7 linked regions of the Homo sapiens genome follow. The protein of the gene in region 3 purifies or fractionates together with the protein of the main gene of each other region. This does not show direct contact. Each region holds a gene or a part of one and is shown on either strand. Other genes may lie near its edges.

Region 1 (3,463 bases), on a different chromosome or scaffold from region 3:
CGGGCACAGTGGCTCACGCCTGTAATCCCAGCATTTTGGGAAGCCGAGGCGGGTGGATCACGTGGTCAGGAGTTCGAGACCAGCCTGGCCAACATGGTGAAACCCCGTCTCTACTAAAAATACAACAATTAGCCTGGTGTGGTGGCGTGTGCCTGTAGTCCCAGCTACTCGGGAGGCTGAGTCAGGAGAATCGCTTGAACCCGGGAGGTGGAGGTTGCAGTGAGCCGGGACTGCGCCACTGCACTCCAGCCTGGGCGACAGAGCAAGACTCTGTCTTTCAAAAAAAAAATCAGACCTCCTCACTCAGACTGCTCTGGCTAGGGGGCCATTTCCATCTACATGGAATATGGGGACCTGCTGCCCAGGGGTGACATGCACGAATCCTGTGTGTTGCCTCCCTGGGGAATGGTACGCAGAGAGAACTGGGAGGCTCACCCCGGCACCCAGCAGTCACACATGCTCCCTAAGGAGCTGACTGCAGACCTTTCTTCCCAAGCCCAGGCCAGCTGCATCCACCAGACCCAGAGACCACACGGGGGGCCCTTCCGCCCCCAGGTGTGTGAAACCCAGTTACTTATGGGAGGGAAAAGACCACTGTGGGCAACAAGCTTTGAAGACCGCCAACCTATCCAGTTCCTTCTTCAGCACCGGCGTCTCCATAATGGAATACTGTGGCATCGGCGTTATGGGCACTTTGGGGGGCAAGTTCTTCTTCCGATTAGCACCTTCTGGGTAAAACAAAAGAAGCACACGTTTTAGCATGAGGGACACGGATTTCCCACATCTGATCCCAGTAGCGTGACCAAGAGGAATAATGCACTTGAAGATAACCCAAGCATCGTTTTGCTCCATGAAAGCAACAGTGGTCACCCCTTCCCTGTCTGGAGCAGGGGCTTCCCAATGATAGCATCGGTGACACGCACTGAGGACCACACCTTGTATAACACGGGTGCCGGGTGAACAGAGCTCCTGGGGCCACTGAACCCAACAGCCCGGCACGTGACTAAAACTTATGCATGTAAACTTAAAAATATCTGACCCACAGTGACAACTTGAGACAATGGGCCACACTGATACTCTTCAAACAGGCTTAGACATCAGTTTTGCTTTTTAAAAATAATTCATCAATTTAAAAAAACCCAGTTAAAAAATGGGCAAAGGGGCCGGGCGCGGTGGCTCACGCCTGTAATCCCAGCACTTTGGGAGGCCGAGGTGGGCGGATCACGAGGTCAGGAGATCGAGACCATCCTGGCTAACACGGTGAAACCCCGTCTCTATTAAAAATACAAAAAATTAGCTGGGCGTGGTGGCGGGCGCCTGTAGTCCCAGCTGCTTGGGAGGCTGAGGCAGGAGAATGGCGTGAACCTGGGAGGCGGAGCTTGCAGTGAGCCGAGATCACACCACTGCACTCCAGCCTGGGCGACAGAGCAAGACTCTGTCTCAAAAAAAAAAAAAAAAAAGGGCAAAGGATGTGAACAGACATTTCTCCAGAGAAGATCTACAAATGGCCAATAAGCACATGAAAAGGTGCCCGACATCATTAGTCATCAGGGAAATGCAAGTCAAAACCACAGTGAGATACCACTGCACGCCCACTAGGATGGCCATAACAAAAAACACAGAGGGTTTGGGCAAAATGGCAGAACCCTATCTCTACAAAAAAAAAAAAAAAAAAATACAAAAAAAGTTAGCAGGGTGTGGTGGCCCAAGTCACCAATGTGGGCAGCTGTTTGTGGCTGGTTCCAGCTACTCGGGAGGCTGAGGTGGGAGGATCACCTGAGCCAGGAAGGTTGAGGCTGCAGCAAGCCATGAACACGCCACTGCACTCCAGCCTGGGCGACAGAGCAAGACCTTGTCTCAAAACAATAACAACAACAACAAAAACAGAATAACAAGTGTTGGTGGAGATTTAAAATGGTGCAGTCACTTTGGAAAACAGTCTCGCAGTTCCTCACAATGCTAAACACAGTTGCCATATGACCCAGCAATTCCACTCCTAAGTACAGAACCAAGAAGAAGGAAAACATGTCTACACGAAAACTTGCACATCAATATTCCTAAGTGGCATTATTAATAACCACAAATTAAAAACAACCCGTGTGTCCACTAGTAGATGAATGGATAAGCAAAATGTGGCATACCATCAGTGGGGTATTAGACATACAAAGGAATGTATGCCCAAAGCCAGGGCAACATAGCAAGACCCAGTCTCTACTAAAAAAAAAAAATTAGCTGGGCATGGTGGCAGCTGCCTGTAGTCCCAGCTACTCAGGAGGTTGAGGTGGGAGGATCACTTGAGCCTGGGAGGTCGAGGCTACAATGAGCTGTAATTGCGCCACTGCACTTCAGCCTGGGTGACAGAGCAAGACCCCTGACTCAAAAACAGGCCAGGCACAGTGGCTCAGGCTTGTAATCCCAGCACTGTGGGAGACCAAAGTGGGTGGATCACTTGAGGTTAGGAGTTCGAGACCAGCTTGGCCAACATGGTGAAACCCCATCTGTACTAAAAATACAAAAAAATTAGCCGGGCATGGCATGGCGATGGGCGCTTGTAATCCCAGCTACTCGGGAGGCTGAGGCGGGAGAATCGCTTGGACCCAGGAGGTGGAGGTTGCAGTGAGCCGAGATCGTGCCACTGCACTCTAGCCTGGGCAACAGAGAGAGGCTCCGTCTCAAAAAAAAAAAAAAAGAATAAAAAGGAATAAAATACTGATCCATGCTACAACATGTATGAATCTTGAAAACTGTATGCTAACTGAAAGAAGCCAGACACAGACACAAAAGGCCACATATTAGTTATATATGGCTCTGTTTATATGAAATGTCCAGGACAGGCAAATCCATAGAGACAGAAAGGTTCTTGGTTGCCAGGGCTGGGGGAAGGGGAAGGTGAGAGACTGCTCATGGGTACAGGATTTTTGAGATGATGAAAATGTTCTAGAATTAGAGAGTGGGGACAATTGTACAACACTGTGAATGTACTGAGAAGCACTGAACTGTCCATTTTAAAAGGGTGGATATTATGGTATGTGAATTATATCTAAATAAAGCTGTTACTTTAAAAAATAATAGGCTGGGCGAGGTGGCTCACGCCTGTAATCCCAGCACTTTGGGAGGCCGAGGTGGGCGGATCACCTGAGGTCAGCAGCTCAAGACCAGCCTGATCAACATGGTGAAACCCGACTCTACTAAAAATACAAAAATTAGCTGGGCGTGGTGCTGGGTGCCTGTAATCCCAGCTACTCGGGAGGCTGAGGCAGGAGAATCCCTTGAACCCGAGAGGTGGAGGTTGCAGTGAGCCGAGATAGCCCCACTGCACTCCAGCCTGGTGACACATTGGAAACAGTCAGACTTTGGTTCTTCTGCCTTTTATGACCATGGAGCCCTTTGAGCCCCCGATGAAAGCGGCAGGCTCTGTCTCCTGAGAAAAGCACGATTCTTCCTGTGGCCGCAGCGTCGTCCT
Region 2 (3,500 bases), on a different chromosome or scaffold from region 3:
CTTGAGTCAGAAAGTGCTGCAAAATTAGCAGAGTTGAAGAGAAAAGCTGAACAAAAAATTGCTGCCATTAAGAAGCAGTTGTTATCTCAAATGGAAGAGAAAGAAGAACAGTATAAAAAAGGTACAGAAAGCCATTTGAGTGAGCTAAATACAAAATTGCAGGAAAGAGAAAGGGAAGTTCACATCTTGGAAGAAAAACTTAAGTCAGTGGAAAGTTCACAGTCAGAAACATTAATTGTACCCAGATCAGCAAAAAATGTGGCAGCATATACTGAACAAGAAGAAGCAGATTCCCAAGGCTGTGTGCAGAAGACATATGAAGAAAAAATCAGTGTTTTACAAAGAAACTTAACTGAAAAAGAAAAGCTATTGCAGAGGGTAGGGCAGGAAAAAGAAGAGACAGTTTCTTCTCATTTTGAAATGCGATGCCAATACCAGGAGCGCTTAATAAAGCTAGAACATGCTGAGGCAAAGCAACATGAAGATCAAAGTATGATAGGTCATCTTCAAGAGGAGCTTGAAGAAAAAAACAAGAAATATTCCTTGATAGTAGCCCAGCATGTGGAAAAAGAAGGAGGTAAAAATAACATACAGGCAAAGCAAAACTTGGAAAATGTGTTTGACGACGTCCAGAAAACCCTCCAGGAGAAGGAACTAACCTGTCAGATTTTGGAGCAAAAGATAAAAGAGCTGGATTCCTGCTTAGTAAGACAGAAAGAAGTACATAGAGTTGAAATGGAAGAGTTGACCTCAAAATATGAAAAATTACAGGCTTTACAACAGATGGATGGAAGAAATAAACCCACAGAACTTTTGGAAGAAAACACTGAAGAAAAGTCCAAATCACATTTGGTCCAACCCAAATTGCTTAGTAACATGGAAGCCCAGCACAATGATCTGGAGTTTAAATTAGCCGGGGCAGAACGGGAGAAACAGAAACTGGGCAAGGAGATTGTTAGATTGCAGAAAGACCTTCGAATGTTGAGAAAGGAGCATCAGCAAGAATTGGAAATACTAAAGAAAGAATATGATCAAGAAAGGGAAGAGAAAATCAAGTAAGTTTTATTTCAGCTTGAATATTTTTATGGCAGTCCTTCTTAATTAAGTCTCCTTTTTTTGTGCCTAATACAGTTATTTTAAATTATTTGGATAAGTTTCACCAACCCAAAATATTAAACATAAATCCAATATGTTAAATATGAGGAGAAATAAAAACAATTTAGGGCAAGTGGCAGTGTTATTCCATGTCCATTTAGGAGAGAAAAACCTTTTCTTGCATATAAGATTCTGGTTATTAGGGACATATCCAAGTAATTATTTTCTTTTTGTTTTGTTGTTTTTAGTATTAGCATTATTATTATATAACATAGATGTGTTTTGAAAAAAAAATTAAAGTGGAAAACAAAAATTCTCTGGTCCCCAGGACCACTACTTAGAGGTAATCATAGTTGATATGTACCTGGACACACACACACACACACACACACACACACACACACTCACTCTCACACTCTCTCTCTCTCTCTCTCTCAAAAATGTTTTCATACAATGAACTCATACTGTATGCACTGTTTTAAAGACCAGGTAGCTCCTTGCAGCTTGTTCTTTGTGTGGCAGCAGTTAACGGTACATTTTTATTACTCAGACAGGAGCAGGAAGATCTTGAACTGAAGCACAATTCCACATTAAAACAGCTGATGAGGGAGTTTAATACACAGCTGGCACAAAAGGAACAAGAGCTGGAAATGACCATAAAAGAAACTATCAGTAAGTAAAATTAAGTTCCATAAGGAACAATTATATCAGCAGAGGCTATAATTTAAGCTTATCATTTTTGCAGTGGTGGTAAGTGCATTAAGTCATTAAACTGGGGAAGAAATAATCCTTGCCCAATAACATTCTCTAATGGGAACCTGCCCTGCTTGGCAATGACTTACCTTAAGGAGAGAGGGAGCAGGTAAAACAATCTGAAAGTATTAGCTAATTAATTACCTTGTAAAGACACTTTTGCTCAGGGAGAGGATACATTTGATCACTGTTGAGCTAGATGTCTCATTAAACATCTTAAAATGCTTATATAAAATTAAATTTCATCAAAATTAATTGGAATGAGAGTTGTTACTGAAATTGAGATACAAATATTAACTCTTGACTAATGTGTTTTCTTGTGTGTGTTCATTTTTATTTATTAGATAAGGCCCAGGAGGTGGAGGCTGAACTTTTAGAAAGCCATCAAGAAGAGACAAATCAGTTACTTAAAAAAATTGCTGAGAAAGATGATGATCTAAAACGAACAGCCAAAAGATATGAAGAAATCCTTGATGTTTGTACCTTATTTCTTCTCTCTCACTTTTGAAATTTAGCTGTAATAGATTTCATGGTAGTGCCAAAGATTTCCTTTTCAAATGTGTTTTTTGAACGAAAAGGGTTTTTTTTTTTGACTCAATATTATTCAAATTAGTACTGTTATATGCAGATTTATAAAGTTGAGTTGATTTCTGCCAGGATTGTAGTTTCCTGATGAGATTCTGCTAACTAGGCAGCACAGTCCCCTTGCTAGTATTGAAGCAACAGTAGATACTAAAAGGAAGAATAGATTCTTTCCCATCTGCCTCACAGATTCTGACTGAACTGTGAGGGGAACCAGACTAAGAATCAAGACCCTGTGCTTCGGTGAAGTCTAAGTAATGGGATAGTGAGTGTGTATTTAAATGTGGCTGCTTAACTTAGCTGGAATCTTTCTGGGAGGGACAATCAACTTTACTCTTATCTCTACCCAGTGTGTGGAGGTTGATTGGTCTCAAGAGAAGAAAGCTGGGAAAAAATGGAATGCATAAGCCAAATCTTTTATATTTAGTGGAAGGTTATTTCAAAATACTTACTCTACTAATGCCATGTTGCAATTCACAGAATATGCCACTAATGCATTGCCATTAGCAAAATAAGATAAGCCATGAAGATACACCATGAAGATAAATCATAAATGCTAGTTAGTACTTTGGACTAACATTTGAAAATGTTTTCAAATGTAATACAATATAAATTGTTCTTGGTTGGGTTACAGATTCTGTAGTTGCTCTAAGCCTTATTTCACTATATGCTAAGAATCTTTTGGTGATTAAGAATTCATAAATCAAAGAATCATACCTCAGCTGACTATGTCAGCAGAAGTCTGAGTCGGGAACAGATTCTAATAATTATTTTAAATGTAATTGAAATGGCTAGAATTCCAAGATATAACACATGCCTATAAATGCCACCTTTTATAATTCTTGAGCTTTATATGTCATTATGAAAAGATTTAAATAATTTCACATTTTCTTATACTTCCATAGAGGATATATGTGCTAAATGAAAAAAAAAAAGTATTATTTCTTGAATGCCTAGAGAGTGTTGGAAGATACAGTAAAGCTAGTTTAGTTCTACTTTTTTTTTTTCTGTTTTTGTTTTTCAGAAGGAAAAGCCAGTTCAGTGTAGTTAAGTAATTTCCCTAAAACTAC
Region 3 (3,500 bases):
ACACTCATGCTCACTCTCGCCCATGTGCTCACACACGGACACTCGTGCTCATTCTTGCCCATGTGCTCACACACGGACCCTCGTGCTCACTCTCACGTGCTCACACACGGACACTCATGCTCACTCACCCATGTGCTCACACTCGGACACTCGTGCTCTCACCCATGTGCTCACACACGGACACTCATGCTCTCTCGCCCATGTGCTCACACACACTCGTGCTCCCTCTCGCCCATGTGCTCACACTCACACGGACACTCGTGCTCATTCTTGCCCATGTGCTCACACACGGACCCTCGTGCTCACTCTCACGTGCTCACACACGGACACGTGCTCATTCTTGCCCATGTGCTCACACACTGACCCTCGTGCTCACTCTCACGTGCTCACACACGGACACTCGTGCTCTCACCCATGTGCTCACACACACGTGCTCACCCATGTGCTCACACACGGACACTCGTGCTCATTCTTGCCCATGTGCTCACACACGGACCCTCGTGCTCACTCACGTGCTCACACGGACACGTGCTCACTCTCACATGCTCACGGACACCCATGCTCACACTCATATGCTCACACACGTGCTCACACTCGCCTCACCCATGTGTGCTCACATACACACGGACACTCGTGCTCACACAGATACTCGTGCACTCTCGCCCTTGTGTGCACACACGGGCATATGATCTCCCAAATGTGCATACTCGTGTCCCTCACACACTCACCAGAGCACCCGCAGCACAGAGCCAGGCTGGCCCAGGCCCTGGCACAGCTCCCGCACGCCCGCATCCTCCAGCCTGTTGTTGCTTATCTGTAGCTCCAGGAGAAACCTGTTCTGGGCCAGCACTGAGCTGAAGTGGGAGCAGCAGGCGGCTGTGAAGCTGCAGGACTTCACCCTGTGGACACAGACAGGACTGACGCCTGGCAGGGGCCCAGGCTGGCCCACAGCTGCGACTGGCCCTTCCCCTGAAGGCCCCACGTGGACCTGAGCAAAAACATCTGACAGCCTCCCAGCAAGTGGGCACCTACACCTGGTCCTTGGCCCCAAGCACTGTTCCCATCAAACCACAGGCTGCTCCCTGGCCTATGCATTCTGAAGGTCGGAGCTGAGCCCAGCAGCTTCCCTGGAGTCGCTCACTCCTCCCCTGGTCTCCTCGGTCACCCTGGCCCTCTCTTGGGCGACAGGGCCCTGCCCCGACAGCCACACTCACCACAGCGACTCCAGCTGGCAGCCAGGTTCCAGCAGGGTCTCACACAGCAGTCGGGCACCCTCATCCCCCAGCTCGTTGCCGGCCAGGCTGAGCTCCTTCAGGCTCTCCTTGGCCCTGAGGACACGGCACAGATCCCCGCAGCCCTTGGCAGTGATGCCACACTCCCAGATCCTGCAGGACATGGACCACCACAGACTTTCCTCAGCACCGTCTCATGGCCTGAGATGAGCCCAGGGGCGGGGGAGAGCTCTGAGGACGGCCCGCCGCCCGACCCTCCGGGAAGGAGGCCTCGCGGAGATGACTCACCACAGGGTCCTGAGCCTGGAGCTGGGGTGGAGCAGCCCTGGGCACAGCTCCGCCATGCCCACATCACCCAGCTTGTTGCTGCCCAGGGCCAGCTCCCGCAGCGAGGCCTTGGAGGCCACAATGCCGCACAGGTCCCGGCAGTTGTCTGATGTCACACCGCAGCTCTCCAGCCTGGGGACACGGGTCACACGTGAGGCAGCACGGGACCCCCCCTAGCCCACACCCCGCACCCCCCCAAGGCCCAGTGCCTACTTGAGCGCCTCCAGCTGGCAGGGGGAGTCCTTCAGGCCCTGGCACAGCACACGGACGCCAGCCTCATTGATGTCGTTGTTGCTAACCGTGAGCTCCTTGAAGTCCGGCTTGGCCCTGAGCACGGAGGCCAGGGGCTCGCAGCTGGCAGCCGAGAGGCTGCAATACTCCAGCCTGGGGGACAGCAGAGCTCAGCACCACACAGGAATGTGCACCAGCCAAGGGTGTGATACCAGGGAGCACGGGGTGTGCTGGTGTCTCATCTCCCCTCAGTCTTCTGCCTGGGCATCAGGTGTCAGTGCTGAGGGACCCCCACAGACTCATCCAGAGGCCCGGGCCTCTGTGGACACCGGCATTCCTTCTGGAAACCCCTCACCCCCTCCCGGACCTCAGACTTTGGGGCCCAACCAGGCCCGGGAGAAAGAAACCAGCCTCTGGAGGGCAGGGCCACCTGCACGTCCCAGGCTGTGGTCAACTCACAATGGCCGGGTCCCCCACACACACTGAGGCGGTGAGTGGAACCTGACTCACGGCCAGGCATCTGTTCCCACCGTCGGGTCCTGGGGCAGCTGTGCCTTGCAAAGGACAACTGGATGGGGAGGGAGGGTGATGACAGATCCCCCCAGCCCCAGCATCATGGGGAGAGGAGAGCACCACAAGGCCCCAGACCCAGCATCATGGGGAAAGGAGAGCACCACAAGGCCCCTGTGACCTGAGTCCCCTCCTCACGGCTCCTGGCAGGCGATGTTCTATGTAGGGGGCTGGCTGGGGGACAGGCAGCGGCCAGCATGGGCCCTGGGGCAGGACACAAACTCACTGCAGCTTTTCCAGGCGGCACTGGGGGTCCAGGAGTCCTTCGCAGAGCAGCTGCAGGCCCGCATCCCCCAAGAGGTTGTCGCTGAGGTGCAGCTCCTGCAGGGTGGGCAGGGTGCGTAGTGTGCTGGACAGGACCCCGCAGCCGGCCCCCGTCAGGCAGCAGTTCTGGAGGCTGGAGCATACCTGGCTGTCAGCAGGGCTCCCCTGAGCCAAGCTGCCACGCCCTTCGCCTGCCAGAGCCCAGAGCCCGGAGCAGCACTCTTCAGGCGGCAGGTCTATACCTGCTCCTTCCCTGGACGGGGCTCTGGGGTCTGGGGTCTCCAGGCCGAGTGAAGGAGGGCACGCATGTGGCTCGACCCAGGGAAACCTTGTCTGCAGACACACCTTTCAGTGGGGGTCTGTGGTGATGCTGGAAGGCTAGGGATGGCGGGCAGGGCCAGATCTTGGGTGCGGGGGCTGGGATAAGGCAGGAAGGGCCCTGTCCCCCCCGCTGTGAGACCGCCAGGCCTGTGTGCCTCTGGCTGATGTTGGAAATGTCTGCTGCCACTGCCTGTCCACCTGCAGCTGCCCACGCGCCCCTGGCGGCTCTGTCCCCTGCTGCCGGGCTACCAAAGCAGACTGCACCAGGCCAGAGGCAGTGCCAGGCCCCGCCTCACCTCAGCTTCTGGATCTTGCAGGAGGGGGTCTGCAGGCCCTGGAGCACGCAATGCACGCCGACATCGCCCAGCTCGTTGCTGCGCAGGTTGAGCTCTGCCAGTGCAGGGTTGACTCGAAGTGCAGAGCTGATGTCCTTGCACCGTGCTTCCGTGAGGCCACAGTCGTCCAGCCTGTGAGCAGACCCCAGGGTCATGTGGACCACGCAGACAGCACTGGCCTCAGCCTCCACCACCACCCCACGTGCAGGTTACAACCTAT
Region 4 (3,500 bases), on a different chromosome or scaffold from region 3:
ATTAGAAGGTTATCAAATTAAGAGAAATGTGAATGAAGTTTTATGTGGTCCTATGTGAGAAAAGTCTCTACACTGGTCCTACTTGATTGTGTAACATAAAAAAGCCTGTAGTGCCAAAGTCTAAGTGGCAGTTTTTGGCCAGAAAGTAGCTTGTTCTAAGCCTTGGAAGCATTAATTGAAATTTCGTACCTATGAGTTGGTGTTTTCTTCCATTAGTTAACTAGAATTTGGGATGGGAGAAACTAAATCTAGCTTATGAGTAAATCCTCTTTTTTTTTTAAAGTTTTTATTTTTTTTGCAACAATTTCTAGCTCAGAAAAATTGCAGGTATGGTACAAAGGAATTTTTTCTGAACTAGTTGAGAGTAAGCTGCCAACATTATACCCCAACACCAGTGAGTGTGTACTTCCTACAAAGTCTTTACAATGCAAATACTAAACTTAGGAAACTAATGCTGATGCATTTATGCTATCTAATCCTCAGATTTATGTGTTGCATTTAGTTGCCATGTCACGTAGTCTCCATTCTGAAACAGTTCCTCAGTCTTTCCTTGACTTTCATGATCTTAACAGTTTGAATGTTATTGGCAAGTTATTTTATAGACTTTCAATTTGGGTTTGTCTGGCCTTCCCTTAGGATTGGATTTAGCTTAATACATTTCTTGGCAGGAATATCACTTCCCAAAGTTAGTGTACTGTAAGTTATACTATGTCTGGATGTCACTCTAAATACATTCCTGACGCTGCATTTTGAAACTTAGGAAGAACACAGTGTAAGAAACCCTGTGTCTTCATTAAAATTTAACTACAAAGGACTGGTGATTACTGTGCTCTTTTGCAAAGTAGTGTTTCCATAGAAAAGAATTTTGTGGTGTCTATATGCCTGTTCCTTATCATTAAATCATTTTACTTTGCTGAATTGCAGATTAGGATGTTTTGGATCATATAATCTTTATGTTTGACATGGGAGCTATTCCATATTAAGGGTACTGTGTAACATTTTCTTCTATCATATTAAACATAATGGAAAAAGTAGGCACATTTTCTTCGTTTGAATGGTGCTTATAAGAAATTCCAAATTCTGTTTCTTTTCATTCCATCTGCTACTTTGCATTTATACTTTTGCTTCATATTGGGATTCTCAGATGATACTAAGGGAGTGAAAAGGCAACCTACAGGGTGGGAGAAAATATTTGCAACACATAAAGCTGACAAAGGGTTCATATGCAGAATACAGACAACACCTTCAAATAAAGAAGGACAATCTATTAGAAAGCTGGATGAGAGTTGAACTGTACAAAAAAGTCTTTTTAAATGACCAGTAAATATATGAAAAGGGACTCAACTGCAATGAGATGCCAGTAGGCACCTATCAGAATGGCTAAAAAATCTTTAAGATGGACAATAGCTAAGCATTGGCCAAGGCGTGAAACAATTGGAATTCTCATACATTGCTGATAAAAGTGTAAATTGATAAAAGAACTTCAGAAAACTGATGCCCATTTAAATTCAGCCTGCACATACCCTTATGACCACAAATTCCACCCAACTGAAATGAATGTAAGTGTGGATATGACAACTCTAGTTACAAAGAATCAGGCCGGGCGCAGTGGTTCATGCCTGTAAATCCAGCACTTTGGGAGGCCAAGGCTGGCGGATTACGAGGTCAGGAGATCGAGACCGTTCTGGCTAACATGGTGAAACCCTGTCTCTACTAAAACAAAAAATCAGCTGGGTGTGATGGCATGCACCCTGTAGTCCCAGCTACTTGGGAGGCTGAGGCAGGAGAATCGCTTGAACCCAGGAGGTGGAGGTTGCAGTGAGCCAAGATTGTGCCACTGCACTCCAGCCTGGGTGACAGAGCAAGACTCCATCTCAAAAAAAAAAAAAAAGAACCCTTTCTGTTTTCAAAGTTAATATATCCCCTTGTTTTACATAGTTAATGGCTTTTGTTGTTTGTTTTTAAGGCAAATTTTAATAATGTCTACGTTGCTTCCAACTGTTGTGGAGTGCTCTTAAGTCTATCAACCATTTTAGTCACTGGATTGTTGCAGGTAGCCCATATACTATAGGGTCTGCACCAAATGGAGCATGTAACGCTAATTCTTTGTAATTTTTCTCTTCTAGTTATTTGCTTATAATGAATTGTGTTGCCCTGAACTATTTGGGAAAGAAGAGTTTGTAGGGTCAGGAGGAAGTATTAATGGATGAGGTTGGGAGGGGTGTATAAGGAGAAAATCTATAATGTGATGGGCATGCAAATATAAGCAAGAAAAATTCTCATAGGTCTCAGTCACAGGACACAAACATTTTGAATTATATCATGACGGTATAGTTACTTCATAAACTGCATATTTGAATTTAATTGAACTCTTATTTCAAGTTTCAAATTTAGGATTCAGATATACCTACTGAGTTGAATTCTAAGTTAACAGCTTGTGCAAATGATTTTGTCATTGCATGTTGACATATCTGCCTCTTTTCCTCTGGGAAGAGGCACAGAGAAGCTATACATTATGTTTATTTGACTCATTGAGGCAAAGAAAGGGGTTCATTAGCCAGTAGCCTTAAAATAAATTTTAAGCTGGAAAAAATTTAACCATAATAATACCACAGCATTCAGATTAATTGAGAGTTTACTTTTAAATTTTGAAAAGGTAGTCATCTAAATGTCTAACGTTATTTTTTAGGTGTAAATACGTTGCGTGACAGTGAATTTTAATTTTCTAAACAAATATCTTTTTTCTCATCTTCTTCAAGCATGGGTGGTAAAGTACCACCTGCTACTCAGAAAGCTAAATCAGAAGAAAATACCAAGGTAAGTTTTAATTTCATTTGTATGTTTTGTGATAAAGTACTATAAGATTTCTTAGGGGTTGTTTTTAAACTGCTGCTCTCCAGTTATCACTCCTGATTTCCCCAAGATCACTTGGAAATAAGACCTTTTAAGACCTCTTTATCTTTATAACTTTGTAGACCCGAATTCTCTGGATTCTGATTTAGAACTGAGAATTTAGGGTTGGATGTTCACTGTTTTAGAATACATGACAATAAAAGTTACATGTATGGCCTGTAAGTGGTAAGCTCCGTGATGGTGTGCATCCGTAGTCTTCATCATTGCCTTACAGTGTGTCATATGCATTGTAGGTACTTTATTTATTATTTGCAGAGTAAATGAAGTATCCCAGGTCAGTAATTTAATTTTTTTGCTCTACTACCTGAGTGATATTTGTGAGTGTGAATCATGGTGTTGGGTTAGCATATTTGCTTAAAGGACGTGTAAGATTAGGAGAAGGTTACCAGTAGCTGAAGTTGAGAGACAGATGAAGGGGAACATACATGTTTAAGAATGTTTTCTTTTATTTGTTTGTTTTTTCTTTCCTGAGACAAAGTCTCACTGTGTCACCCAGGTCTGAGTGCACTGGTACAATCTCGGCTCACTGCAACCTCAGCCTACTGGCTTCAAGCGATTCTCCTGTTTCAGTCTCCCGAGTATCTGGG
Region 5 (3,500 bases), on a different chromosome or scaffold from region 3:
AGGGAAAGATGGGGAAGTGTGCCGAAGAGCCTCCAGGCATGACAGACAGTCCCCTGACCAAGCACAAGTAACAGGCCCTTTGGGTCTCTGCTTCTCACTGGAAAATGATGAAGCCTAGATCTGATGACTCCTAGTGCCAACATTTAACAAAGTTCGAAAGTTATGCAGGACTTCACACATGTACGGAATGGCTGTATCACAGAATATTATGCGTTAGAAAGTTCACGGTCACTATACCTAGCTCTAAAATTTTTCAGAGAAACAGCAGACTAATAAGTGAATCTTAAATAAAGGAATAACATTTTAATGAAATAAATGAAACAGAGCAGGGAAACCAAAGAGCCAATTAGGGGAAGAATCCTGAAAAAGTATGGCTTCACACAGCAGCAGCATTGAAGAAAACACTATCGATTTTTCCCAGAGAAAAAAACTCCAAAAATGTCCAATAACCAAGTGCACAGAGTTATGGTCAATAAGACTTTGAACATGCATCACACATACATAAGTACATAAAGAAAATTTTCATTTATTTTTCCCTCAGATATACTTCAAAATAACATGTAGACACAGAATCACAAATATATACAAAACAAAGTATCGCCTGGTTATTTCAAGAAGAGTTTTCCCTCAATTTTCTTAGCTGCTGTGCATAAAATTCAAAGCTTTCCTGTTAAGGAGAAAAAAAGAGGGAAGTTAGAGATACCAGCAAGAGGTGATGGTACATAACTTAAAAAATCATAAAACACTACCAACTGGTAGCTAAGACTGCCAGGCCCATGGAAGATGCTGCCCCTCAAGCTTCAGTACTCCTTCCTTGTTTCATGAAATCACAAGTTCAAGGGCCTCGGGTTCAGAGTTAAAGCTAGCAGCAGGAGGTAGGGTGCGTGTGTGTATACGTGTGTATGTGCAAGCATGTGTGTGTGCACATATGGAGGTATGGGTATGGAAGGCTGAGGTGTTTGAAATAAACACGGTGTATTGACTCAGTTCAATGACATAACAAAAAGGAATTGTGCATATGTGATTTCTCTTATTAAAGAAAACATGCCGGGCACAGTGGCTCACGCCTGTAATCCCGGCACTTTGGGAGGCCGAGGTGGGCGGATCACGAGGTCAGCAGTTCAAGACCAGCGTGGCCAACATGGTGAAACCCCATCTGTACTAAAAATACGAAAATGTGCCAGGCATGGTGGCAGGCCCCTGTAATCCCAGCTACTTGGGAGGCTGAGGCAGGAGAATCGCTTGGACCTGGGAGGCGGAGGTTGCAGTGAGCCGAGACCGTGCCATTGCACTCCAGCCTGGGCAACACAGCGAGACTCCATCTCAAAAAAAAAAAAAAAAAAAAAAAAAGGCAAAATTTCCTAGACGAAGAAATAAAAACCAACTTATGTAAATGAACAAGTAATTACCACTGACATAATATGCTTGGCTGTTGAACTACAGGCCATTAAATCCTATTTCAAGTTGAAATGAGAGAACTGCCCCAAGGACATTTGGTAAATCCATGCCTATAGCTGAAGGTCTGAGACAGACCTTGTATTTTAAACTGTGGCCCCAGAGAGCTATGTTCTCCGACTGCCGCAGCCAAGGCATGCTGCTCAGTCCCTCAAGCCATCCCCTGAGGGCTCTTCACAGAGATCTAATCCTCATGTAATTAAGTCTTCAACTTATTTTCTTACACATTGTTATGAAGTGCACATAAATCTGCAGAGGTATTTTTTCCCCTTAATTAAGAAATACTCACAGGGGGTTCAATGAAAGGGACAGGCTCTCCAGCATACTTCAGCAAAGATGCGTAACGCTTTAGAAACAGATCATCCAATTTTGTATTCTTTGCAGTCAAATGTTCATACAGTGCTTTAGCAGATGTGACATCTTTCTCTGAGACTGACATAAAGAAAAAAATATATTAATCAGAGATAAAGACAACCTATCTTACTCTTTTCACCAAAACAGCCACTCAGGGACGGCTGGATCCCTTTATCCCACGGCAAATGAACACTTAACTACTTTCAGTAAGAAGCCACATTCAGAATCTACCATCTCCCTCACTTCTCTACATCCCTCATTCGGCATCACTCACTTTGAAGGAGAAGAAAATGACAAATATGGCTACATTTAAAGGACTTTAGAATAATATTGATACCATTCACTTAGGTTATTACATTATTTAAGACCTATGATAGTTCAAGTGACCACAAACTGAAGTCCTCAGTTATAAAATAATACACACCATTCAATCCCCTTTGGCTTAAAACCACTGTGAAATCAAGATAATCCAGGAACTGTTGTGGAGAGGGACATGTCAATTATGTAGAAATCTACATCAACATCAAGATCATCAGCTCAACATCAAAAAAGCTTTTCATTTTTCTATTGTAAAATAAACAAATATGGAAAGTATAGTTAGCTACAATGATACACACACACAAAAAACCTATAGGCCGGGCGCAGTGGCTCACGCCTGTAATCCCAGCACTTTGGGAGGCCGAGGTAGGCGGATCACGAGGTTAGGAGATCGAGACCATCCTGGCTAACATGGTGAAACCCTGTCTCTACTAAAAATACAAAAAATTAGCCGGGCGTGGTGGCGGGTGTCTGTAGTCCCAGCTACTTGGGAGGCGGAGGCAGGACAATGGTGTGAACCCGGGAGGTGGAGCTTGCAGTGAGCCGAGATGGTGCCACTGCACTCCAGCCTGGGCAACAAGAGCGAGACACCATCTCAAAAAACAAACAAAAGCAAAACCTATAAGGAGACATTAACAAGTTACACTAGTTTCACTTAAGTGAATGATGAAATATGTTAGGAGCCAAATTTGGCTGGCTCTCTACTTGTGGCTGATTTGTGGAAATTTTTTAGTTTACCATGGAGATGGTAAGGGCTCTGCTAACAATTACTGCTGGTAATTCAACTCCTTAATTTTGCATTAGATTGTTAGCATCTAAGCATCACATAAACCCCTGCCCTACACTGACTCTGATATTGTCAACCGCAACTCCGGCAGCACCAGGGGAACCCCTAAGACAGAGGTGAGACGTTCAGCAATCAAAGAGTCTCCCAAAGTGGAATGAGGGTGACTCATCAGCTCTTAGTGGAGTTGGAACACATCTTTGCTGTTTCCATGAAGTCAACTTCTTGTGTAAATCCTTTATTTCCCTTCCTGAGGAGCTGAACCCTTTAAGGGCTCAAGCTCTATCTTCTAGGAAGCTGCTCCGAAAATTCTGGCATCTTGCCTTTCTTTACTTCTTGATTTTCTACCTTCCTCCCAAAATGGATTACCTAATTTAGTAGTAACACACACAGATTTATGCGCTTGACACTATTTCACATTACAGGCATACCTTGGCTTTAATGCACTTTACAGATGTTGCGTTATTTACAAATTGAAGGTTTATGGTAACCCTGCCTTGGGCAAGTCTATCAATGCCATTTTTCCAACAATATGTGCTTACTTTGTGTCTCTGTGTCACATTTTGGTAATTCCTGGAATATTTCAACC
Region 6 (3,500 bases), on a different chromosome or scaffold from region 3:
CCAGGAGCTCTGGTCATAAAGAGGTTCGTTCATCGGAAGATTTATGGATAGTCATCTTATGAAATAAATAACCTGGAAAAACGAAGAGTTGAGATCAGGGTTCTTAACTATTAACTTGTTGGGGAAAAAACTGCAATTAAGTAGCATTAACCCTTTAAAATAAATGTTTTATTCCTAGTTATGTAAGTAATGTGTGCTTGTTACAGAAACAATAAAGCTGCAAACAAAATCCTTACCAATAAAACCATCACCCAGAGTAAATTAATACTCTGGTATAGTTTCATCTACTTTAGTGTACGTTCATGCACGCATGATGGGGGGGTGGGGTATATTAAACACTGTACAAAATTAGAAGTATACTATTTGCTCTTTTCAGTTGACATTTTATTTTTCTAAATTTACTATTTTTCAAAAACTGGATACTTAATAGTGACAAAACATGCTGAACCTTTGAACTGTTTTAACAAGTAACTAATAACTCTCATTTATGTCCTTTTAAGAACTAAAACATACCACTGTAAAACAAGAAATATTCAATATAATGTCAACCATAAAAATTCTTTCAGAAACATAGTAGAAACTGGGTTCTTGAGGAAGCCATGATGAAACGGCTTGATGAATTGAAAAGATAGCGCTATTAGATCCTGTGAGGTATTTCTGAGATCTCCAATACCACAGACAACCAAGAACTGCCTATTATTTTGATGCAGTCTTTCAGAAGGAAGGGAGCCCTTAATTTTCTTTACAGATATGGGCAGACTTTATCCAAAACCATCATCAAAAATCAATCCATCAGATAATGGCTCCATCAGACTTATAAGGAAAAGATTTATATCAAACACCATACTTTTGGACTTACACTACTTTAAAGTTTACAAAGCACTTTAAATATTATCTCGTCTGAGCTTCACAATGACCTTAAGAGGAAAGGAATTCCAGTTCACACATTAAGTAAAACACAGCTAGGAAGTAACAAGATTACAACATCTCCCATTGGTGTTCTTTCCATATACCAGATACATTAAGTGTAAATCTACTTTATAACTTTATTTCTAATCATAAAAAAGCAATACAGTTTCAAAATCCGCCCCCCAAAAAGAAAAACCACCCTATAACATGCAGGAAAGAAAAAAAAGTATTCTATAATCTTCCCACAAAGGGAAAACTACCACTAACATTATTTTTCTAGACATACACCCATATACCTCATTTGATACTGCTTTGTTAGAGCACTGTTTGTCTCAGAATATATAAATTCACTTTGGTACTTAAGAATGCAGTTATTACAATGGGTAGTTAATAGAAGAGGCTGATTGTTTATTCAGCTATAAAAACTAACATGTCATTCTGTGCTTTCCTGGTACTCAATCTGCTGATCTCTCCTACCACGCAGATAAAGCCACTCAGCCAACTTCTTTACTATTAGTCTTTGTCCTCTCTTGTCTCACAAAAGGCATGCAAGTAACAATTCTGAGGGTGCCACAAGTGTTGACAGAGAGTACCATGTTTCACGTTAAAATGCCAAAATGTGGTGCCTTCAAAGAAACAGTCAATGAAACAGAAAGCAAAAATAAGCAGAAAATTAGAAACGTTATTTGGCATCATGAAGGGCAACACCAAATTTCACTACTAACTGCAAGGATTGATAAACACCATGATTTCAGATTTGAAAAAAAATGGAAAACTGCTAATGCACAATGTTAAGAGATCTCCATGAGAACCAGGCATTAATCCCATATAGCAATGATTTAATATTGTTACCAATTTCAGGAAAATGATTTTTTGATAAATGGGCTATTGTAAGATATACCTTTTTATTTCTTAGGAGCATGTGACCTGCATACGTAAACAGGCCTCTAGAGCACAACATTGTATTTATTGTAAATGATGCTCCCCCGCAGATGTGCACTGGTGGCCTTGCTCTAAACACTCCTAGTAAGTGTAACAGGTTAGCCCAAGAGGAAACACCTTATCCAAGCTGGAACAAAGAAATCTTCCCTAGGATTTTTTGTTAAACTAGAAATGAGAAAAGTGGTAGATGTTTCTAAAATTCAAATGCTGTTAACAGCCCTATTTACTGCTTTACTGAGAAACTGCACCATAAAACAACAACAACAACAAAAGCCACTGGAACAGAGGTAAGCAAGACCAAGAAGTAAAGACAATAATGAAGGTATTCAATATCCAGTCCCAATTGTTTCTGAAGCCTAACTCATCCTTGCCCTCTCTGCCATTTGGTTATTTGCTTTTCTTCATGGAGTAACATGGCCAAAAAATGTTTCCATTTACCTAAAGTGGGTTCTAAAATCTTCAATTAAATATACCTAAACTGGCCGGGCGCGGTGGCTCATGCCTGTAATCCCAGCACTTTGGGAGGCTGAGGAGGGCGGATCACCAGGTCAGGAATTCAAGACCAGCCTGACCAACATGGTGAAACCCTGTCTCTACTAAAAATATAAAAATTAGCCGGGTGTGCTGGCAGGCGCCTGTAATCCCAGCCACTCAGGAGGCTGAGGCAGGAGAATCTACTTGCACCTGGGAGGTGGAGGCTGCAGTGCACTGAGATGGTGCCACTGCACTCCAGCCTGGGTGCAAGTGAGACTCCGTCTCAATAAAAAAAAAAAAAAAAAACCTAAACCGACTAAATGCATTAAAAGCCTTAAGCCTTGAAGTCTTTACAAGTGCAGATGAGCATACAGTATGCCATCTTTTGTGTTAAACAAAAAAGGAAAACAGGAAAACATACATATACCTCTTTATGGTTAGCACAAAGAAACAAAGGAAGAATAATACAGAAAACGATGAAGCTGGTAATCTATAAGGGGTAATGGATAGAAAGGATTGAAGGGATATGGTAATGTTATTTCAAGGAGCATCTTACTATACAGTTTTAACCTTTGGAAACATGTTAACAATTTACATATATTTTTAAAATCAGTAAGGATGGGATGGAGAAAAATATCTAACACTGAAAGCAAACTAATCCAATCATATTTCAAATGCATACCACAATACATTGAAGGGGAAAAAGAAAACTAATCCAAGAACTTATAAACCACTATTCAATTTATGTACCTCACAGGAGGCCACACCCCGAGTGTTACAGCCCCCCAGGAAAATAAATAAATAAAAAACGATTTATGTACCTCAGTTTTGATGGAGCTAAGGGAAAGAGAAGAATAACGAATTTTCACTCTTTTTAGTAATTTTATTTTTTGTAGTGGTATGGATGAAGCAATTCTGAAACTACTTTAGATACATCATAAGTTTGAGCAAGTAAGTAAATGTTTTGATGGTGCTAGGAACTTAGGGCTTTCATTGTGAAAGACAAGAAATACAAATAGGAAATAGGAGAAAGCAAGAAAGAACTGAAGAGTAATAAATTATCAAACACTGGAAAAAACAGAGTCCATAAATACATAGCAATAAATTAATCAATGCGGAAGAAGGGAAGCTCTTATAGAGTGCTGAGTACCTACTACTAAATGTAGAATAACAGT
Region 7 (3,500 bases), on a different chromosome or scaffold from region 3:
TACTCCAGCCTGGGTGACAGAGTAAGACTGTCTCCGAAAAAAAAAAAAAAAAAAAAAGCTTAGGTTGGTACATCATGGAGATTTTTTTGTTGTAGTTTTACATCTGTAGACACTGTTACATGGTATGTTTATACATCACAAAGCTCACTACATTTTTCCTAGCTAGACAAAAATCAGTAAGTCTCATACACTGACTACAACATTTCATTATTGCATATTCTATTTAGTTTCTGAATGTCATCACAATTCATTTCTATTTTATGTAATCATTAGCTTGTGTAATATTGGTCCAGCAAGAATCTAATAATGATATATAAATGACCTTATGGTATTACTAAATTCTGTACTAAGTAATTTTATTTTCCAGTTATTAAACTCCAATTCAGAAAGAAAATATCTTTAATAGTCATTCCAGAGCAATATAAAATGGAAAATTATAATTGGGTAGCAATTCTGTTATTATACCATAATAGATTTTAAAATTGCATATATTATGCAACACACATTCCGGTTAATGGTATGCCTTTCTAATAAAACAACTCCATTATTGTTGGAACTCAAGAACTTCATTAAAACCACTGGCTATATTTGTAGTAGAAAGCAAAGAAAAAAGAGAGTCCTATAGTGTTTTGATAAATACCTGGATATTTTATTATGGAATTCTCACATTTCATATTTCTTTTCTATGATGCTGTTGTAATCTATGGCCTTTGTCACTCCCATTGCTGCTGTGTACAGCTGTCCAGATTGCGTATTGTACTTCAGCAGGCTCCATTCACATAGAGTACCATGATGAGCCCCTCAGACTTGTAAAGTTCACAACCTGCAAAACTACATGTGGTGTCCCTGACTCCCTATTTACACTCCATAACAGACTCCTTGTATTAAAAACTAGATTTCTGTGATCTCAGCTCTGACTTCAAACGAGATCAAATTTCAAGAATGGCCTGAAATTAGACTACATAGCTCATCTTCAGCATTTTTAGATAGATTCAAATCTTTGGAAATTAACAAGTTAGAGTCCCAGGTGTGTGTCATATGAGACTTTAAACATGTAGCAGACATTTCTAACTTTTGATTATGTATACTTGATGAGAATAGAAGTGGGATTTTGATTATAGCTCAGTTTATACAGCCCGCTTCTGGGTGGCCTCACAAGACCATAGAAACAAGCAGTAGAAAGTATAGCAGATTCTAGAAAGAAAACAGAAAATGTTAAATCAATAAAAAATAAGATTTAAAAAAGTACTCTTAGTTGTGAGTACTTCATAAGTGACTTTTAGTTTTCCCCAGCATACTTTGAGGTGGGCGTTGTGGGCAACCCTGGCCTAAACTAAGAGCCCTGCCTTGGAGTCTGACATTTAGTCATAAGGGAACACAGTTCCGAGCCTTTGGTTTCCTCTGTCTGTCTGCCAGTGACATTTAAAACATCTGTCTAGCAAACTCAACCTGGAATAGTGGGTGTGCATCTGTGCTTTGTAGTACAATTGCAGAGCTTTGTTGTTGTTATAATACAGCTCTGCTTACAGTTTTCATTTCTAACCCCAGATGGAATTCTGACTCTGAGACTGAAAAAGGAACAGAAGCCAGAATTGAGGTTCATGCATTTCTGCATTCGCACATTTTCTTTGTCTTAAGGAGTTCAATTTAACCCCAGGTGCATCAAATTAAAGTTATGTATGTAACACAACTTTATAGTAAGTCCTCCCCAAGTACGAATGAATGTATGTTGAGTAAACATCCCCAAAAGATCCCATTAAGATGTAAACATGAAAGAATGCTCAATACAGCTGTGGTCTCACCATTTGCCTTGTGTTGTACATCTGGCGGAAGCTGGTCAAGAGCATACCACTGATAGTCTGGCTGTGTGGAACAATACAACATTATTATAGCAATATGGACTTCAAATATAGTGGCATGTCAAAAATACAATTAGGCTATGTGGCTTTTATTAAGCAGGCAACACAAAAGTAATTTCTATCCAAACCTATTGCCAACCTCACTCATCCTGCTTACCCCCCATCACTGCCATCATCTCTCCCTACCCCCTCTTAAATCCACTCTGTGTTTGGCCAGAATTTCTACCACTTTGAGGTTGTGACATATTTTCTTTCTTTTTTTGAAACAGATGTGTTTTGAATATCTGCAGAAGTATAAACACTTGTAAAACTTACTACAGCCCATCAATAAAACAAAGCAACTTAGCATCAACAAATACTCTTTTTGAGACCCTCACACTAGAGGCAATGAGAAGGCCAGGAAAAAAAGTTTAATACAAGTTTTCTAATGGTTTAAGGAAGAAATTTAAGCTATTAAATGGGGATTTGGCATTGACAGAAGTTCAGGATGGTGAAGCAGGGCAAATCTTTCCCTTTTTGCTGTTGTGAAGAACCGATCCAGCAGAACCTATCCTCTAAATTGCTCATATAGTTTAGTCTACAGAGACAAGATTTTTCTCTTGGGATTTTCTCCTAGGTTTACACCAGTTAAGAACAGCTAGATATTGAATGTCGAACAAATTGCATTGAATAAATAGTAAACCCATAGGCCTGAATCATCAAGATATCTCCAAGGCCAGCACCTCTGTATTTAACGCTTAGGAATGGAGCAATCTCAGCTTTACCTGCCCACAAAGCAGGTCTGTCTTTCTGCTCTGAATGCTCACCCCTGCCTCCTACTTCTCCACAAGACACAGAGAATATAGATTTTTTTGTTGTTCTGTAATTCAATTATCTCCTAAAAATAACTTGAGGAAAATTTTTCTAACATGAGCCAACAGAGAGCATTTACAAGGCTGCCAGACCACTGAAAGTAGCCCAGAAAGTTCAATTACTCAATAAGACACTGAGAAATGCTGCTTTTAGTGCAGTTTGACCCCACTGTACCCCTACTCTAGACACCTAGGCCCTTGGCTCCTCTGGCTTATGAAAAAGCTAGAAGAGGAAATGAGATCACCTCTGTTTTTTATCTTCTCGTTTATTTTTAGATGTCTCAAATAACACATAGGATAAGTGACGTGAGCCTCAGTTTTATATTCCAGGAGAGTTGCCAAGAGAAGGTAAATATCCTGTAATGTTACCAACACTATAGCATGTGACTTAATTCAGCCTTCGATATAGACAAGAAACATGAAATATTATTTTTAAATTAACTTTGAGGATTTGGTTGTAAACTCTACTGTTATGCTGAGATTTTTTTCATCTGACTACTGCTTGAAAATGTAGGCCATTCTGGCCAGGCGCAGTGGCTCATGCCTGTAATCTCAGCACTTTGGGAGGCCAAGGTGGGCGGATCATGAGGTCAGGAGTTTGAGACCAGCCTGGGCAATATGGTGAAACCCCATCTCCGCTAAAATTACAAAAATTAGCCACGTGTGGTGGTGTGTGCCTGTAGTCCCAGCCAGTCGGGAGGCTGAGGCAGGAGAATTGCCTGAACCCAGGAGGTACAGGTTGCAGTGAGCCAAGATCGCACCACTGCACTACAGCCTGGATGACAGAGCG

The links.
Region 1: the proteins of RNH1 (region 3) and SLX4 purify together in Homo sapiens (co-immunoprecipitation; one large-scale study listed by IntAct). This does not show direct contact.
Region 2: the proteins of RNH1 (region 3) and GOLGA4 fractionate together in Homo sapiens (co-fractionation; one large-scale study listed by BioGRID). This does not show direct contact.
Region 4: the proteins of RNH1 (region 3) and ST13 fractionate together in Homo sapiens (co-fractionation; one large-scale study listed by BioGRID). This does not show direct contact.
Region 5: the proteins of RNH1 (region 3) and LRPPRC fractionate together in Homo sapiens (co-fractionation; one large-scale study listed by BioGRID). This does not show direct contact.
Region 6: the proteins of RNH1 (region 3) and ZNF638 fractionate together in Homo sapiens (co-fractionation; one large-scale study listed by BioGRID). This does not show direct contact.
Region 7: the proteins of RNH1 (region 3) and TNIP3 purify together in Homo sapiens (co-immunoprecipitation; one large-scale study listed by IntAct). This does not show direct contact.

Annotation. Positions count from the first base shown.
Region 1 is NC_000016.10:3,584,144-3,587,606, forward strand, and holds part of SLX4 (structure-specific endonuclease subunit SLX4), read right to left. Parts: exon of another isoform or gene 2,793-3,463; intron 729-2,792; coding exon 626-728; intron 1-625. UniProt on the Homo sapiens protein: Regulatory subunit that interacts with and increases the activity of different structure-specific endonucleases.
Region 2 is NC_000003.12:37,326,771-37,330,270, forward strand, and holds part of GOLGA4 (golgin subfamily A member 4), read left to right. Parts: coding exon 1-1,055; intron 1,056-1,645; coding exon 1,646-1,767; intron 1,768-2,192; coding exon 2,193-2,323; intron 2,324-3,500. UniProt on the Homo sapiens protein: Involved in vesicular trafficking at the Golgi apparatus level. May play a role in delivery of transport vesicles containing GPI-linked proteins from the trans-Golgi network through its interaction with MACF1. Involved in endosome-to-Golgi trafficking.
Region 3 is NC_000011.10:497,243-500,742, forward strand, and holds part of RNH1 (ribonuclease inhibitor), read right to left. Parts: intron 3,413-3,500; coding exon 3,242-3,412; intron 2,758-3,241; coding exon 2,587-2,757; intron 1,944-2,586; coding exon 1,773-1,943; intron 1,692-1,772; coding exon 1,521-1,691; intron 1,386-1,520; coding exon 1,215-1,385; intron 900-1,214; coding exon 729-899; intron 1-728. UniProt on the Homo sapiens protein: Ribonuclease inhibitor which inhibits RNASE1, RNASE2 and angiogenin (ANG). May play a role in redox homeostasis. Required to inhibit the cytotoxic tRNA ribonuclease activity of ANG in the cytoplasm in absence of stress.
Region 4 is NC_000022.11:40,850,140-40,853,639, reverse strand, and holds part of ST13 (hsc70-interacting protein), read left to right. Parts: intron 1-2,759; coding exon 2,760-2,817; intron 2,818-3,500. UniProt on the Homo sapiens protein: One HIP oligomer binds the ATPase domains of at least two HSC70 molecules dependent on activation of the HSC70 ATPase by HSP40. Stabilizes the ADP state of HSC70 that has a high affinity for substrate protein.
Region 5 is NC_000002.12:43,887,990-43,891,489, forward strand, and holds part of LRPPRC (leucine-rich PPR motif-containing protein, mitochondrial precursor), read right to left. Parts: intron 2,374-3,500; exon of another isoform or gene 2,234-2,373; intron 1,888-2,233; coding exon 1,745-1,887; intron 668-1,744; coding exon 611-667; 3' UTR 1-610. UniProt on the Homo sapiens protein: May play a role in RNA metabolism in both nuclei and mitochondria. In the nucleus binds to HNRPA1-associated poly(A) mRNAs and is part of nmRNP complexes at late stages of mRNA maturation which are possibly associated with nuclear mRNA export.
Region 6 is NC_000002.12:71,338,282-71,341,781, reverse strand, and holds part of ZNF638 (zinc finger protein 638), read right to left. Parts: intron 1-3,500.
Region 7 is NC_000004.12:121,136,822-121,140,321, forward strand, and holds part of TNIP3 (TNFAIP3-interacting protein 3), read right to left. Parts: intron 1,864-3,500; coding exon 1,803-1,863; intron 1-1,802. UniProt on the Homo sapiens protein: Binds to zinc finger protein TNFAIP3 and inhibits NF-kappa-B activation induced by tumor necrosis factor, Toll-like receptor 4 (TLR4), interleukin-1 and 12-O-tetradecanoylphorbol-13-acetate.